4 linked regions of the Homo sapiens genome follow. The protein of the gene in region 4 purifies or fractionates together with the protein of the main gene of each other region. This does not show direct contact. Each region holds a gene or a part of one and is shown on either strand. Other genes may lie near its edges.

What was found. Proteins that work in one complex are often made in the same cells at the same time.
Region 1: the proteins of RASA1 (region 4) and MTMR14 purify together in Homo sapiens (affinity purification with mass spectrometry; one large-scale study listed by BioGRID and IntAct). This does not show direct contact.
Region 2: the proteins of RASA1 (region 4) and IVNS1ABP purify together in Homo sapiens (affinity purification with mass spectrometry; one large-scale study listed by BioGRID and IntAct). This does not show direct contact.
Region 3: the proteins of RASA1 (region 4) and DDR1 purify together in Homo sapiens (pull-down; one large-scale study listed by IntAct). This does not show direct contact.

What each region holds. Positions count from the first base shown.
Region 1 is NC_000003.12:9,652,452-9,656,613, reverse strand, and holds part of MTMR14 (phosphatidylinositol-3,5-bisphosphate 3-phosphatase MTMR14), read right to left. Parts: intron 2,994-4,162; coding exon 2,845-2,993; intron 1-2,844. UniProt on the Homo sapiens protein: Lipid phosphatase that specifically dephosphorylates the D-3 position of phosphatidylinositol 3-phosphate and phosphatidylinositol 3,5-bisphosphate, generating phosphatidylinositol and phosphatidylinositol 5-phosphate.
Region 2 is NC_000001.11:185,299,635-185,303,796, forward strand, and holds part of IVNS1ABP (influenza virus NS1A-binding protein), read right to left. Parts: intron 1,930-4,162; coding exon 1,800-1,929; intron 1,563-1,799; coding exon 1,338-1,562; intron 925-1,337; coding exon 803-924; intron 710-802; coding exon 583-709; intron 497-582; coding exon 365-496; intron 250-364; coding exon 76-249; intron 1-75. UniProt on the Homo sapiens protein: Involved in many cell functions, including pre-mRNA splicing, the aryl hydrocarbon receptor (AHR) pathway, F-actin organization and protein ubiquitination.
Region 3 is NC_000006.12:30,897,535-30,901,265, forward strand, and holds the end of DDR1 (epithelial discoidin domain-containing receptor 1 isoform 2 precursor), read left to right. Parts: coding exon 1-63; intron 64-538; coding exon 539-773; intron 774-1,353; coding exon 1,354-1,503; intron 1,504-1,621; coding exon 1,622-1,762; 3' UTR 1,763-2,622; downstream 2,623-3,731. UniProt on the Homo sapiens protein: Tyrosine kinase that functions as a cell surface receptor for fibrillar collagen and regulates cell attachment to the extracellular matrix, remodeling of the extracellular matrix, cell migration, differentiation, survival and cell proliferation.
Region 4 is NC_000005.10:87,269,729-87,275,348, reverse strand, and holds part of RASA1 (ras GTPase-activating protein 1), read right to left. Parts: intron 1-5,620. UniProt on the Homo sapiens protein: Inhibitory regulator of the Ras-cyclic AMP pathway. Stimulates the GTPase of normal but not oncogenic Ras p21; this stimulation may be further increased in the presence of NCK1.

The sequences.
Region 1 (4,162 bases), on a different chromosome or scaffold from region 4:
ACCCATCTCTACTAAAATTCAAGAACTAGCCAGGTGTGGTGCCACACACCTGTAATTCCAGCTACTTGGGAGGCTGATGCACAAGGATCGCTAGAGCCTGGGAGGCAGAGGTTACAGTGAGCCAAGATGGCACCACTGCACTCCAGCCTGGGCAACAGAGCAAGATTCTGTCTTAAAAAAAAAAAGAAACTAAGCTTACCTAATTCTGGAAGGAGGAATTAAGGAAGAGCTAAGAACCATAAATAACAGGGCCATAACAAACCCCAATTCTTTAGGCTTGGCGATCCCAAGTTCTTAGGTTATATAACTGAGGATGTAATACTGTTTCTGTGATCTATTTACAAGAGCCCTTAACACTCTTTTCTTGGAGAACCCCACTACAACCTTGTGAAATGGGCACTCTTTTTTTTTTATTTTTTTGAGATGGAGTCTCACCCTGTCGCCAGGCTGGAATGCAGTGGTTCGATCTTGGCTCAGTGCAGTCTCCGCCTCCTGGGTTCAAGTGATTCTCCTGCCTCAGCCTCCCGAGTAGCTGGGATTACAGGCGTGCGCCACCACACCCAGCTAATTTTTGTATATTTAGTAGATACGGGGTTTCACCATGTTGGCCAGGATGGTCTCAATCTCCTGACCTCATGATCTTGGACTCTCAAAGTGCTGGGATTACAGGTGTGAGCCAGCACGCCCGGCCAAGATGGGCACTCTTATAGACATCCCCACTTTACAGATGAGGAAACTAAGGCTTAGTGCTTAAACTCCTCCTACTGGATTGTTCCTCTGCTGTAAACCTTCTCTGGCTCCCCATGGCCTGCAGCAGCGGTTCTCAAGCTATAGTGTATTTAAGACATCAAGAGGCCGGGTGTGCTGGCTCACACCTATAATCCCAGCACTTAGGGAGGCCGAGGCGGCTGGATCATGAGGTCAGGGGTTCGAGACCAGCCTGACCAACGTGGTGAAACCCTGTCTCTACTAAAAATACAAAAAAAGTAGCTGGGCGTGGTGGCGGGCGCCTGTAATCCCAGCTACTCAGGAGGCTGAGGCAGGAGAATTGCTTGAACCCGGGAGGCAGAGGTTGCAGTGAGCCAAGATCGTGCCACTGCACTCCAGCCTGGGTGACAGAGCACTCTGTCTCAAAAAAAAAAAAAAAAAAAAGACATCAAGGGAGCTCTCACAGAATGTAGACTGGAAATTCTGATTCCAGAAGGCCCAGGAGAGGTTCTAGAATCTGTCATCTTTTTTTTGAGATAGAGTCTTGCTCTTGCTCTGTTGCCCAGGCTGGAGTGCAGTGGTGCAATCTCGGCTCACTGCAACCTCCACCTCCTGGGTTCAAGCGATTCTCCTGCCTCAGCCACCCGAGTAGCTGGGATTACAGGAGCCCACCACCACGCCCAGCTAGTTTTTGTAATTTTAGTAGGGATGGGGTTTCACCATGTTGGCCAGGCTGGTCTCAAACTCCTGACCTCAGGTGATCCACCCAAAGGAGGCTGGGATTACAGGCATGAGCCACTAGGCCAGGCCGAGAATCCATAATCTTAGTAAGTGCTTAGGGGTTCCTAGCACAATAAAACCACTGATACCCACACACAACCCACAGGTTCACACTCCCTGGCCTGATGATCAAGATCCTATATGAGTTGATCCCTAAGGACATTTTCAGGGAAACTCCTGCTCATCCTTCCAATTCCAGTTCTTCCCAGGCACATAAACACAAGGCAGAATTAACCATTTCCCCAGTTGGCCTACGGCAGCACTTCTCAAACCTGGTAGTGCATTCGAATCACCTGGACACCCTGTTCTGCTGTGATTCTGGCTCAGTGGCTCTGGAGCATGAGCTTCTGCGTTTCTAACAAGTTATTGAATGCACTGCTAGCCCTGCTTTGAGTAGCAAGGGGCTACTGCACTATGCAGCATGACTGCTGCGGTACTCCTCACAACATTTCACCCACGGGGCCAGGATTTCACAGATAGTGCTGACAACGGCTCCTGAAATTCCCTTAAAATCAGCAGGAAGTAGGGAGATTAGGAGAGCAAACTTTGAGATCAACATATACCACTTCCTAGAGCCTCATGCTGTGATTACTTATCAGTATCAAATAACTATACCATTTACTGACTACCTACAGGCCACAACCTGCACCAAGCATTCTGTGTCTGCTCTGGTATAAACTGTTAACCCACATAAGGTACTCAGGTCTTGGTAGGCCCACCATAAATGGTAGCTTTTATTTCTAATTCTTACAACGTACATGTCAGGCTTTTATCAGCCCCATTTATCATCTGGACTGCACTACCACTTTCTAAAATTTTAGTTAGTCCTTAAAAGGACTAATTAACATGAGGTAGAGAATTACCAATAAGAAAACTAAGGACAAAGCAGTTAAGTAACTTGCCCAGCATCAGTTACACAGCCAGCAACAGGGGAATCCAGGATGTGAACTCTAGACAGTCTGACTCTAGCAGTCTGACTCTAGACCTTAGGCTCTCAAGTGCTACATACGGTAAACGCTGGTAAGCCTGTCTTTACACAGTGTACCTCCCACTCACACTCTCTAAAAAAGGGACACTGATATTCAGAGAAGTGAAGTGTGAAGTCAGCTATCTTAGGACAATGAGCTCTAGGGTGGAAGTGAAACAGCAATCAAGGGCTGTTACTCCCAACCCCTCATTCTATGCCATGCCACCTTGCCAGTCTGACTTGTCCAACCTTGAAGTAAATAAAAATGCCAATAAGGATTAACACCTGGGGAAAGTGATTCTGCCCTGCCCAGCTACAGACTTCCTGGCCACAGGGATTAGCTGCCACGGACTCCCCAGACATGTACACTACGGTCACATGATGCTCACGTGTCTTTCTCCTTCTCAGAACTCTCATACTCCAGGAACACGATGTGCCGGGGATAGTGGCCACAGATATCCCCATTCGTGTTTGGAATCACGCTGAAACAGTAGTCTCGGCCAAACAGCTCCAGACATCTCTTCTCAATGCGCTCAACCTGCACAGAGAAGGAGACCAGAACACAAAGAGAATTCTGGGGTTCTGAGGGTGAGAATTAGGAGGTCCATGGCCTAAGAGGTCACTGGGAAAGACATGTACCTGGGTGATAATTATTCTGTGCTGGGAAGATGTGATGCTAGGCCACAGGTCCTACGTGTAGTCCATTAACCCATATATTGTATACTTCAGGAAGGATTCTTAAACCCCTAACAATGAATCTGAAATTGTGGGTATTGAGCATTTGGGGGAGACGATTACAGCTTTCATTAGATTCAAAGAGGTCTACAACCCATAAAACATAAGAACTCTTGGTCCAGGTTACTGAAACTGCCACTAATCCACTACCTTCATTGGTCAGCTTCCCCATTCTCTTATTTATTTTTTGAGACGGAGTCTCGCTCTGTCGCCCAGGCTGCAGTGCAGTGGGGCAATCTCAGCTCACTGCAGCCTCCGCGTCCGGGGTTCAAGCGATTCTCCTGTCTCACCCCGAGTAGCTGGGATTACAGGTGCGTAGAACCACGCCTGACTAATTTTTCTATTTTTAGTAGAGACAGGGGTTTCACCATGTTGGCCAGGCTAGTTTCAAACTCCTGACCTCAGGTGACCCGCCCACCTCGGCCTCCCCAAGTGCTGGGATTACAGGCGTGAGCCACGGCACCCGGCCTTTATTTTTTTAAAAGACACAGTCTCACTCTGTCATCCAAGCTGGAGTGCAGTGGCACGATCTCAGCTCACTGCAACCTCAGCCTCCTGGGTTCAAGTGAGCATATTTGGCTAATTTTCATATTTTTAGTAGAGATGGGGTTTCACCATGCTGGCCAGGCTGGTCTTGAACTCCTGATCTCAAGTGATCCGCCCGCCTCAGCCTCCCAGGTGTGAGCCACCATGCCTGGCCTCTTCCCCATTCCTTTTTTTTTTTTTTGAGAAAGAGTCTTGCTCTGTCACCCAGGCTAGAGTGCAATGGTGTGATCTCTGCTCACTGCAACCTCTGCCTCCTGGGTGAGCCACCACGCCCAGCCAACAAAAAATTTTTAATAGAGATGGGGTTCATGTTTCCAGGCTGCTCTCGAACTCCTGGGCTGAAGCAGTCTACCTGCCTTGGCCTCCCAAAGTGCTAGGATTACACGCGTGAGCCAGTGTACTGGCCCTCTTCCCCATTCTTTAGCC
Region 2 (4,162 bases), on a different chromosome or scaffold from region 4:
GGCCTTTTCTCTCAGAGTTTTAGAACAAAGTCTTGCCACTATCTACTCTTCACCTCTCCAAATCCCAACACTCACCATTAAGAACAGCCACTCCAGCTCCTCGCCTAGCCACATTCATGGGTGCAATTAAAGTCCAGGTATTATTTTCAGGATTGTATCGTTCTACTGTGTTCAGACAATTCCAAGATTCTGCACCTCCGATTATGTACAAATAACCACCAAGCTCACAGACTGCAGACTGGTGTCTCCCTACAAGAAAAGTCAAGTCAAGATTATTGCTACATCTCCCAGACTCTAAGTGTATACTACACATACTGTTGATTTGAAGGTCTTTAAAAAAAAAAAGGAAAAAAAATCAACTTACGAATGTTAAGAGGGGCACAGCTTGTCCACAACTTTGTTACAGGATCAAATACATCACAATTTTTCAGTCCTTTTTGACCATATGGATCAGAGCCACCAACGATGTATAACTTTCCATTCAGAGCACACACTCCTATGTAAGTATAAAATAAAGTTACATATTGATAATTTAATTATCATATTTAAATACTGGATATCTCAGGAGAAAACTATTATTACCTGCATTACAACGGTTAGTTCTCAATTCTGGAACAGGAATCCAGTCATCTATGTTTGAATCATACATCTCTCCACAACTCAGGTCATCTGAGTGGCCATTTGATCCACCTACCACATAGAGCTGGCCCTATGCCAAAAGTGAGAGATGAGAATTTCTAACATCCTGAAGTTACGAGGAAAAAGCTAAATAGGGGTTGCTCCTGCAACATAATGCGCTTACCATGAGTACAGCCATTTGAAATCGGGCTCTTGGTGTTCTCATGGGAGCAAGAAAGGACCAGTGATCTGTATGTGGATTATAGCATTCGACTGTTCGAAGACATTCCTCTCTGTTATAGCCACCTGGTAAAAAATAAAACCATAAAGATTTATGTTTAAAATATTAAACTGGACCACGGTTTCCAGTCCTGTAAGTTTAAGAAATCTGCACAATGAGAAAAAGTATTAAAACTTTTTAAGGATGCCTTAGTTGATCTTTTAACTAAGTGCTTGTAATAGCTGAAAAATCGCATTATCAGTACAAATAAACTGCTTAGTCTTGGCTTGAATATTAGAAAAATTTAGCCATGACATAATTTTTTTAAAAATTAGATACAGACATTGAACTGAAGGTTAGCCATATTCAATAGTATTGTTATTTCCCTATCTTATTGGATTGCCGTGAAAGATGGCATATTAAACCCTCTCTTTGAAAGTTTGCATGTCACAAAAATGCCCATCTACATGCTTAGCCAGTTGAATGCTTCTGTTCTTACCTGCAGCTATGAGTTTGCCATTCATCTCTGCTGTTCCCAGACCAGATCGTGCGTACTGCATAGGAGACATGGGCTTTTCGATTAGCTCATCTTGTTGCATCTCAAAGCTTAAACTCTTACTTAGTTTTGGAGTACTTGTTGGTGAGCTCTGTGGGCTGTTTCTCCCATGAAGAAAAATGACACAGAATATACCATCCAGCACAGCCAGGCACAAGTAAGTGTTATCTGTAAGCACAAGAGTTCCATGTTTAAGATGTAATTATTACTTTTGGTTTGTGTATATGATCCTGAATTGGACTCCAGTCTCCACATCCCAGACTGGAACAATCTGCTCTCGTTTTCCAAATTTAATTGCTTCTGAGTTTTTTCCTCGAGTAGTCAATTTAAGAGGTATTAAATTGGCAACACTCCTTCTTAAAAATAGGTAAGCTGAAAACAATCTGGCAAGTGTCATATACTTACTTGAAGTCTTTTCTGAAGCAACGATTTTCCACTCATGCTTAGGGCTTTGTACTGTAGCATTTGGAGAAGAGAGACATCCAGTTGAACTGCTACTTATCTGCTTATGGCCATTCTCACGTGGTGGCTTTTTCTGCAAAATCAAAAGGTAGCTACAGAAACCTAGCCAAAGACCACATCTGATGTACCTTTGTTCCTGAGCTATTCCACAACACTGAGTATCCTTCACCTATATATGACATTTATAGGACACTAACTTTAACTCAAGCCAACACTTTCCAAATGACACAAATTACTGGCATACTTCCATCTCCACTCAATGATGAGACAACTACGCCTACACAATTAGCCTAGGTAAGAAAAAGCTCAGTTTTAACAATTTGAAAAACATGTTGCAAATCAAGACCTCAGCAGAAGAAAAAACCAATCTATAATTATTTTTATATTAAGTATAGAATCTTTTAAAAGAATGCTATAAATTTAAAATAGTGTGAATTAACAGAGAATACATTTAACCCACTATTTTCATGAAATTGTCAAACCTAACTAAATCATATGTACAGGTATCCTTCATACAATGCCAGCAAAACGTAAGCAGATATAGATTCATCCAGTTTCTCTGAAAGTACTTGACAGGAAAAAAGTGGCAATTACAAGAAACACTTAAAGAATATTTCTTTAGGATTACCTTATAGGTATTATAGAGTGGTTTTCTAGACAAAATTACATCAAAACACAAGAAAATAGTAATCAGAAATGAAACATTACTAAAAACAACCAAATATTCACAAAAGTAGAATATACAGGAATACTAAAGAGGGAGAAATGAACAAAGCTGCCAATTTCCAAATGATTGTAAGAGAACTACTTTACACATGTGTTCTCATGTATGAGTTTTCCTTGATGGCTTCCTTCCAATTACTTTAGCCTTTGCCACTTCCAAAGGATATGATCATATGGAATTGGAAGAGTAAAGACTACTCTGAGAGGAACTGCCAAATGAACAGGTAGCAACTTCAGCACCTGGCCTAGTTTGCTCATCCCACTTGTGCTGGTCCAGATGGCCAGAACACATGGATAGGTAAAATTTCTAATGGAAATTTCTGTTGCTAGTGGAAGCAAAAAGCCATATAACAAGTAATTGAGAAAAAGATTTTGCTAGCTACTTGAAGCTATTAAGAAAAAGCTATATCAAAAGTTAGGCCTGAGTGTGGTTACAACATACGTAGGCTATTTTGAGAAAAGGCAGGGAATGTATCATTATCAATGGTTATGATTAAATTCCACTTAGATGTTTACTATGTACCTAGGTATTACTAGGTACTTTATTTACATCATCTCTTTTAGTCCAGTGAGGGTGATATTATCTACCCATTTTATAGATAAAAATATTGAAACTCAAGAAGATATGCATTGCCCAAGGCAATACAACTAAAATAAAGATTAGGAATTATGAAGATAAACCCCATCCTTTTTATACTATGACAAGTTATGTCATACTATAAAACAGATTTACACTATGACAGGCTGTTTTCCACTGTTACTAAAGTTGTGAATGCATCTTTCATATCACTTTTATACTATGAATATTAAGAATAAAAAATAAGGTTAGACTTATCTAACCTTATCTATTATTATGAATTACAAGGTACATAAAACCTCATCCCAACCTATGGGAAGAAGGGATCCAAATATCACAAATGGATGATGCTTACATTGAGGCTGTACTGAAGTAAAAAAACTGTTCTAATGTACAAACTATAATTAAGAGAAAATGACTGTGAAAGAGAAAGGCCCAAAAGCAATGCCTAATAACAAGCCTAATATAGAAATGCTGATTAAATCCTTTATATGTAAAGAATATATCCCTAAACCTTATTTTACATGACCTCCCAGAGAACTTGACAGTGTTTAGTCCTCCTTCAAACTTTCTTCTCCTACCTTAGGTAGCTTTTACAACATGATTAGATTCTTATTGTCCTCTGACTTTTCTAATGGCTTCTTCTCAACCTCCTTTTTCTATTCCTGAAGTCTAACATGTGTCCCTCGCATCCTCTTCATGATCTCTATTCATGGCATCACATTCTAATGAGTCACACATGTCAGAATCCCACTTATTCTCAAATTCTTTCTTTTCCCTAATCTTGCTAAGCAATCACTAAGGCCTGCTAAGTCAACCTTTGTAAATATAAATGTCTATTTATATATAGACATAAATAAAAAATCTATCCTTTCTCCTTCATGCCCCTAGATTAATCCCTCATCATTTTTTTAAAACCTGAACTACTGCTGGCAATAGTCTATAAACTGGGCTCAAACTTTTATTGATTTTCTGTGTCTGGTTATAAAAATAGGAAGGGTCCAAG
Region 3 (3,731 bases), on a different chromosome or scaffold from region 4:
GGAGGACAAGGCAGCCGAGGGGGCCCCTGGGGACGGGCAGGCTGCGCAGGGGCCCACCATCAGGTACCTGCTTACCCAGGCTGGGCCTTGCTCAGAATTCCCCCAGGGGATCTCCTCCTCTCCCCTCGCTTCAGCCTGGAGGAAAAGAGGGGAGCGTGGGGGTGGGAAGGGAGAGAGGTTCCAGGAGGGCCTGGGATAAGGAATGTGTGACAAGTTAACCCAGGAACATGGACAGAAAGGCTGGAGGTGACTATGCAAGAGTGGTGAAGGGACTTGGGCCCTGCCATGACGTCCCTTCTGCTTTCTCTCACCCTCACTCCCCTCTGAGTCCAGATTGGGGAGCACAATAAAAGAAGAGCCCCCTAGTGTTGGCCAGGCCTGGGAGATTGAGAGGGAAGTGACCCTTGGCCTCACGTGGGCATTCCACCTCCACATGGGGAGCCAGAGTGACCGGGCCCGGGGAGTGGGCTCTCTCTCCTCTCCTGGATGGGAATCTGCGAAGCTGCCCCCAGTGACCTTCTGTCGGTTCCCTTCTCAGCTACCCAATGCTGCTGCATGTGGCAGCCCAGATCGCCTCCGGCATGCGCTATCTGGCCACACTCAACTTTGTACATCGGGACCTGGCCACGCGGAACTGCCTAGTTGGGGAAAATTTCACCATCAAAATCGCAGACTTTGGCATGAGCCGGAACCTCTATGCTGGGGACTATTACCGTGTGCAGGGCCGGGCAGTGCTGCCCATCCGCTGGATGGCCTGGGAGTGCATCCTCATGGTGAGCAGCCCGAGGACAGCCAGGTTGGAGCAGGGCAGGTGGGAGAACACTGGCCGCCACTCACAGCCCTGGTCTCCATCAGTCACACACTTTCTCTGGGTTGCATTTTACAGAATCTCATCTATAATATGAGGTTCTCCTAGCCCAAGGGACTGGGGAAAGCAGGAGCTGCAGTGTGATGGGCAAGAATCCAGGAGCCAAGAGTGGGTACTGGGGATGGAGACAGGGTGGCAGAGAGCTCAAGAGATGAGGTTGGGCGAGGAAGCTGGAGATAGAAGGGGTTGGGTAGGGAGACCGAAGGTCAGGACCAGAAAGTGGGGGTGGATGGAGAGGAAGGAGGAGCAGAAGGAAGAGGTGGGCCAGGGCCCTGGAGAGAGGACCAGAGCATGGAGAGGAAAGGCAGAGCCCAAGGGAGAGGAGTTGGAAAAGGTGGCCAGCGGAGGAGAGTGGAGAGCCTGGCGTCAGGAGGGATCAGGCCTGAGTGGAGCCCAGAGTGGATCTGGGGCTTCCAATAGGAAGGGAGGAGGGTCTACGTTGCCTGATGTCCCTGTCTGTTTTTGCTGCCTTCTCTGCATCCCAGGGGAAGTTCACGACTGCGAGTGACGTGTGGGCCTTTGGTGTGACCCTGTGGGAGGTGCTGATGCTCTGTAGGGCCCAGCCCTTTGGGCAGCTCACCGACGAGCAGGTCATCGAGAACGCGGGGGAGTTCTTCCGGGACCAGGGCCGGCAGGTCAGAGTGGAGGAGAGGGAAGATGGGTCCGAGGCGGGGGACAGAAGGGGCAGAGTTGTCATCTTGGAGACTAAAGAATATTTGTTCCCTGACTCTCATCCACACTGCCACAATGCAGGTGTACCTGTCCCGGCCGCCTGCCTGCCCGCAGGGCCTATATGAGCTGATGCTTCGGTGCTGGAGCCGGGAGTCTGAGCAGCGACCACCCTTTTCCCAGCTGCATCGGTTCCTGGCAGAGGATGCACTCAACACGGTGTGAATCACACATCCAGCTGCCCCTCCCTCAGGGAGCGATCCAGGGGAAGCCAGTGACACTAAAACAAGAGGACACAATGGCACCTCTGCCCTTCCCCTCCCGACAGCCCATCACCTCTAATAGAGGCAGTGAGACTGCAGGTGGGCTGGGCCCACCCAGGGAGCTGATGCCCCTTCTCCCCTTCCTGGACACACTCTCATGTCCCCTTCCTGTTCTTCCTTCCTAGAAGCCCCTGTCGCCCACCCAGCTGGTCCTGTGGATGGGATCCTCTCCACCCTCCTCTAGCCATCCCTTGGGGAAGGGTGGGGAGAAATATAGGATAGACACTGGACATGGCCCATTGGAGCACCTGGGCCCCACTGGACAACACTGATTCCTGGAGAGGTGGCTGCGCCCCCAGCTTCTCTCTCCCTGTCACACACTGGACCCCACTGGCTGAGAATCTGGGGGTGAGGAGGACAAGAAGGAGAGGAAAATGTTTCCTTGTGCCTGCTCCTGTACTTGTCCTCAGCTTGGGCTTCTTCCTCCTCCATCACCTGAAACACTGGACCTGGGGGTAGCCCCGCCCCAGCCCTCAGTCACCCCCACTTCCCACTTGCAGTCTTGTAGCTAGAACTTCTCTAAGCCTATACGTTTCTGTGGAGTAAATATTGGGATTGGGGGGAAAGAGGGAGCAACGGCCCATAGCCTTGGGGTTGGACATCTCTAGTGTAGCTGCCACATTGATTTTTCTATAATCACTTGGGGTTTGTACATTTTTGGGGGGAGAGACACAGATTTTTACACTAATATATGGACCTAGCTTGAGGCAATTTTAATCCCCTGCACTAGGCAGGTAATAATAAAGGTTGAGTTTTCCACAACTGTGTGAGTGGGTTCCTTGGGAATTTGGTAACTCTGCCTCCTGCACCTCCCTCTGAACCCACTTCCCAACCCACTTCCCATCTTCCTTTTTTCCTGCCTCCTCATTCCATTTCCCATCACCTGTTTTGCCCAGCATTGTGTTCTGTTTCTGGATAATCCAGGCCTTTGCCTGTGGGACCTCAGGAGATGCATGAATGTCTGAGTGCATGAACCTTCTCAACTCAGAGGGGTGCTCTGGTGGAGGCCTGGAAGGAATGCAGTCAGGCCAGGGGTGCTGAACCTTTTTTGTGCCATAAACGCCTTTGGCAGTCTGTAGAGGTCTACTGAGTCCTCCTCAGAATTAGGTTTTAAAACCTATAAAATGGACCAGGCATAGTGGCTCACCCCTGTAATCCCAGCACTTTGGGAGGCTGAGGTGGGTAGATCACTTGAGGCCAGGAGTTCGAGACCAACCTGGCCAACATAGCAAAACCCCATCTCTACTAAAGATACAAAAATTAGCAGGGTGTGGTGGCATGCGCCTGTAATCTCAGCTATTCAGGAGGCTGAGGCAGGAGAATTGCTTAGAACCCGGGAGGTGGGGGTTGCAGTGAGCTGAGATCACACAACTGTGCTCCAGCCTGGGCAACAGAGTGAGACTGTCTCAAAAACAGAACAACAACAACAACAAAACCCATAAAATGTATAGGATTATAAGGGAAACCAATGGAAACAGTTTACCAAAATGCTAAAAAATTATGAAACTAATGTGCTTCTTTTTCATGTATTTAATAACAAGATCTAAAAACAGGTGTAATAAACTGACATTTTCCAAATACTAATGAGCATAAGCCATATTTGAGATTTCTACAACAGTCACAGTGAGACATAAAAGTAGCTGTGGTGTCAATTAGTGACAAGTCACAGGTACTGCTAATACTACTGGTGGTTTTACCCATATTCATAATTGGAGGAAATGCTAAACTTCTATTAGAGGTTAGTAAAAGGTGTAATTTCTTTTTCTTGCCCAAATTCTAGAACCCATCTGGCTCCCCAGGGTCTGGAAATCCCAGGGGAGAATCCCTGGGTTATGCTGATCAAGTGTGCAAATGCCCCACTGGGGGTAGGG
Region 4 (5,620 bases):
TTGGAGTGCTTTATTATGCAGCAATAGATAACCAAAACAATACAAATAAACCAATTAGAACTGTTCCTGTTTGGCAGTAAGCAACAACAACAAAAAATGTCAGTGGTAACCATTGTTATAGTTAATAATCACTATAAAAAATCTTCTTCCCAAAAGGTACTTTTCTGGGTATTTAAGTGTTCTTAAAGGGACTCTGTTCATTTCACCAATGGCCAGTAAAGAGAGAGAAGTAAAGCAACCAGAAAGTCTACTCTTCGTTTTTCCTTTTCCCTTCCTAATTTATGGCTGTCCTTTTTAGCTTTGCCAGTAATGTTTGCCTGTTTTCCCCAGAGTGGCTAATCAATGATCCATACCGATTCTAGCATTCAACTGTGCTCTGTACCTCAGTCACTACAGACATCACCGTCAACTTCCCTCCAGACCACAGGTAACTAAAAGTTCTGTAGACCAGACTCTTCACTAAGGGTGAAAAGTTTAAACTCATCTAATTCATAATTATGTTTTCCTGATAGAATCATTAAGCGAAGAGCATCAGAACCAATAACCTCTTGCTCAGAAAATAAATTAAGTAGCAGGAAAAACATACCTGCTATTTTTCCTCAAAGAATTTACTGATCCTAATTACACAAATTTCTTTTTCTTTTAACCCTCATGACCTTTGCTCATACTTCACTCGTGATATTTATCTTAACCTAGCCTGAATCACAGTAATTGGTTTACTTAATTTCCTACTAGATCTAATACTCCCTTTTCTCCCATTGAGAAAAGGGGCATTTTACTCTTGCAACCCTTGAAGCACCTACTATATTTCTCTGCTACTTATACAAATACAGTAAAAAATATGAGTTCTGGTCATCAATCATTGTCCGTAACTAATCTTAGCAAGTCTCACCCCCATTTTTATTAAGAAACAATGGCTCACCCATATGTATAATGCAATCAGTGACAAAGTTAATGAATGCTACATGTTCTAACATTAACCTTCACCAATTATTTGACTTAATAAGAATGATTTTATTTTTGTAGAGACAGTAAAATGATTTTTTTAAAAAAGAAAGGTACTATTTACATTCCTTATTTTCTTTTCCTTAAAGTTTCAGACTTGAGAAGTCTGAATATTAGGTTCAGCATAAGATCCAGGCCAGATGCCAGGCAAATACTGCAATAGCAAAGGCAAAGCAGACCTGGTGGAGACTGCAAATGGAGACCTCAGTACCCACCTAAAAGGGTCAACCGCTACTCAGCTCTGGCAATCTAGTCTCAAGCAGGAATGGCCACCAGGTATAGCCAAGTCCTGTGGGTTTTCTAGAGATGCTAGAAGTTGAGACTTCTTAAATATGAAATCTTCCTATTGGCCGCGAGGTGGCTCACGCCTGTAATCCCAGCACTTTGGGAGGCCAAGGCAGGCGGATCACCTGAGGTTAGGAGTTCGAGACCAGCCTGGCCAACAGAGTGAAACCCCGTCTCTACTAAAAATACAAAAATTAGCCAGGCATGGTGGTGTGTACCTGTAACCCCGGCTACTGGGGAGGCAGAGGCAGGAGAATCACCTGAATCCGGGAGGCGGAGGTTGCAGTGAGCCAAGATCACACTACTGCACACCACCCTGGGTAACAGAGCAAGACTCCATCTCAAAAAAAAAAAAAAAGAAAAAGAAAAAGAAAAGAAATCTCTATTCTTAAATGGTGACAATTATCAAATATTCCAAATACTCTAAGGGCAAGCAGTATATATCTGTGGGTTGGATTCTCACCAATGGCCACTTGCTACTGCAGACTCACAGTTAAAAATCTCTACATATAACTGATGGTGCACTACACAAACAATATACCTTTACCACCACTGCCCCTCACCCTGCAGAAGAAAAAAAATGAGAACCATGAAAAGAAACTCCAAAAAATTATGGAGTACTAGTGACAAACTTCTTTAATTTAACCTTTTCTCTCTCGAAAAAGAAATCTGTTAACAGTTTTAGATATAGAAACTTTTATAGTAGAGAAATAGAGAGGAAGAATTTTTTTTATTTTTATAATTTTCTCAAAACTTTCAAAAATATTCAAATAAATAGTACAAATTACATAAACATTTCCAGCCTCAACCAAACTAATGAAAATGCTCAGTAATAAAAATGAGACTAATGATTCACCACGTACACAGAAAAACAAGGTACAAAATACTAATTAATAGTGTTAATTTATTTGCACTGGTGTATCTACATATTGTCATTTGACTCTTTTGTGATCAATAGCACAAAACTGGGAACAAAGTTGAACTAACTTCCTGACCATGGAACACTCGAGTAACAAGCCACTTGTGGACTCAATCCTGTGACCTAAACCCCCTTAATACCATGCTATCCATAACTAAGGGGACCAGTTACTCATAGTCAGTATTTAGTCCAACATTTCTTCAATACTTTTACAAAAGATAAATATTATTTGAAAATGTCTTTAAGGCTTTTCCTTCCACTTAAAAATATGAATATCTACATTCAGGAATAGGAATTTATAGAGAACACTTGAATTTCACCTCTAAAATTGCTTAACCTACTGCTAGAAGCCCTTATAAAGTTAAAATAAAATTCTTAATATAATTAATCGTGGTAGGCTTGATTTGGAGTTCAAAACATTCTGTAAAATAGTCATTTAACAAGGGAGATTCTCTAACCAAAAGAATTAGTAGACAATTTAGTGCTAGTAAAATATTACAGTTATGGGCACAGGGGACTACGTATTTATCGAACACTTACTATGCCCAAGTACTGTGACGAATACATCAAGGTATTCATTAAATCTTAAAAAAAAAAAAACAATCATATGAGGAAGGTACCATTCCTATCCCCATTTTACGGATGGGGAAACTGACCTTTCCAAGAATACCCAGCTAGTAAGTGGCAGAGTCAGGATTCCAACCCAAATCTTGTCTAACTTCAGAATCTGCACGCTTAACCACTACACTGCATTGCCTCCAGTGACTCTGGGTTGATAACTAAGATGAAATAAGAAGGAAATTTGTACTTCTCAGTGGCAAATTTTAAAAACATATTATAAATGGAGGGTATTTTTTAGAACATGAACAAGTTTCATATACATAGTCATACAATTTTTATTTCCAAATACATGTAGTAATGGTGAAAATCCCACACAATGAATTTCTCACAATTTTTCATAAGTACTCAATCATGGTGTTTTTTTTTTTTTTAGACAGGGTTTCGTTCTTGCTGCCCAGGCTAGAGTGCAACGGCAGATCTCGGCTCACTGCAACCGCCCCCTCCCTGGTTCAAGCAATTCTGCCTCAACCTCCAGAGTAGCTGGGATTACAGGCGCCCGCCAACACGACCGGCTGATTTTTTTTTTTTAGTAGAGACGGGGTTTCACCGTGTTGGCCAAGCTAGTCTCGAACTCTGACCTCAAGTGATCCACTCGCCTTGGCCTCCCAAATTGCTGGGATTAGAGGCGTGAAGCACCACCCCCAGCCCAATCGTGTTTATTACTAAAAATTTAATGGGAACACCCTGTATTTTCCCCTCAATTTTGCTGAGAACCTAAAACTACTCTAAAAAACAGTCTATTGGGCCAGGCGCGGTGGCTCACACCTGTAATCCCAGCACTTCGGGAGGCAAGTGGATCACCTGAGGTCAGAGTTCGAGACCAGCCTGGCCAACATGGCAAAACCCTGTCTCTACTAAAAATATGAAAATTAGCCAGGCCTGGTTGCGGGCACCTGTAATCCTAGGTACTCAGGAGGCTGAGGCAGGAGAATCGCTTGAACCTGAAGGCGGGGAGGGGCGGGGCGGAGCTTGCAGTGAGCCGAAAACACGCCACTTCACTCCAGCCTGGGCGAAACAGCGAAACTCCATCTCTCAAAAAAAAAAAAAAAAAAAAAAAAAAAAAAAAGAAGTCTACTAAAAACAGTTTTTTTTAACTACAATATCCTAAATATACCTAATTTAGTTATAAACTAGCATAAGACTAGATTCTTTCAGTATGAAAAGTTGCATTGTTTTTCATAACCATTGTACCAAGCATGCTATTAGCATTTAATAAAAATTGAACTATTTTTTTCAAAAGCAGTGCTGTAATATTGTTTTTTTGTTTGTTTGTTTGTTTTGAGACGGGGTTAAGCTCTTATTGCCCAGGCTGGAGTGCAATGGCAGGATCTCGGCTCACTGCAACCTTCGCCTCCCGGGTTCAAGCGATTCTCCTGCCTCAGCCTCCTAAGAAGCTGGGATTACAGGCACCCGCCACCACGCCAGGCTAATTTCGTATTTTTAGTAGAGACGGGGTTTCTCCATCTCGGTCAGGCTGGTCTCAAACTCCGGACTTCAGGTGATCCACCCGCCTCGGCCTCCCGAAGTGCTGGGATTACAGGCGTGAGCCACCGCGCCCAGCAAAATTGGAATTAACACTCCCAGAATACTCCCAGGGACTCTGCATTACAAAGACATTAAAATATGAACCAAACTCTGACGAAAGACTTGAATCCTTTATTGAGGAATATAAAAAGTGGAATACTACATCCCGTTGGCTGGCATAAATATGACTAACTTTACTTTTCCCCTTTAAGTATCAAAAGATGTAGCCTTAAGTCAAAAATGGATTAGGGTAACAGAATCTTTTCCTAATTAGTTTCAGAACTTTCTAAATGCTCCAAAGAAGCTTATCCAAAAAAAAAAAAAAAAAAAAAAAAAAAAAAAAAAAAAGGCCGGGCACCGTGGCTTACGGCTGTAATCCCACCACTTTGGGAGGCTGAGGCCGGCGGATCACCTGAGGTCAGGAGTTCGACATCAGTTTGGCCATATGGCGAAATTTCGTCTCTATTAAAAATACAAAAATTAGCCAGACATGGTGGCATGCGCCTGTAATCCCAGCTACTAGAGAGGCTGAAGCAGGAGAATCTCTTGAACCCGGGAGGCGGAGGTTGCAGTGAGCCGAGATCACGCCACTGCACTCCAGCCTGGGCAACAAGGCGAGACTCCATCTCTGGGGTGGGGGGAAGGAAAAAAAAAAAAACCTCTGAATTGTCCAGAGTGACTGTCAACATATGAACCAAATCTTTTTTTCTTGATATTCAACAAAGTTGTCAAAATTCTTTTTTTTTTTTTTTTGAGACAGAGTCTCGCTCTGTCACCCAGGCTGGAGTGCAGCGGCACGATCTCGGCTCACTGCAACCTCCGCCTCCTGGGTTCAAGCGATTCTTCTGCCTCAGCCTCCCAAGTAGCTAGGATTATAGGCGCGTGCCACCGCGTCCGGCTTATTTTTGTATTTTTAGTAGAGACAGGGTTTCACCAGGTTGGCCAGGTTGGTCTCGAACTCCTGACCTCAGGTGATCCGCCCACCTCAGCCTCTCAAAGTGCTGGGATTACAGGTGTGAGCCACTGCGCCCGGCCGGTTGTTAAAATTCTAAGGGTCAATTAAGGGTTATATGAGAAATCTATAACAAGTTTTGCCTAATAACACTTCCCATCTCAACATTTTCATCAAGGTCCACCTTTAAGAATAAACACCTAAGTTCAATTAAGACAAGTGAGGAGGAGGTATTAACTTACATTTTAAAAAAGTCATTGTCCTGTATATTTTACAGACTGTAAAACTTAATTTTTAAATAGAATACTATACTG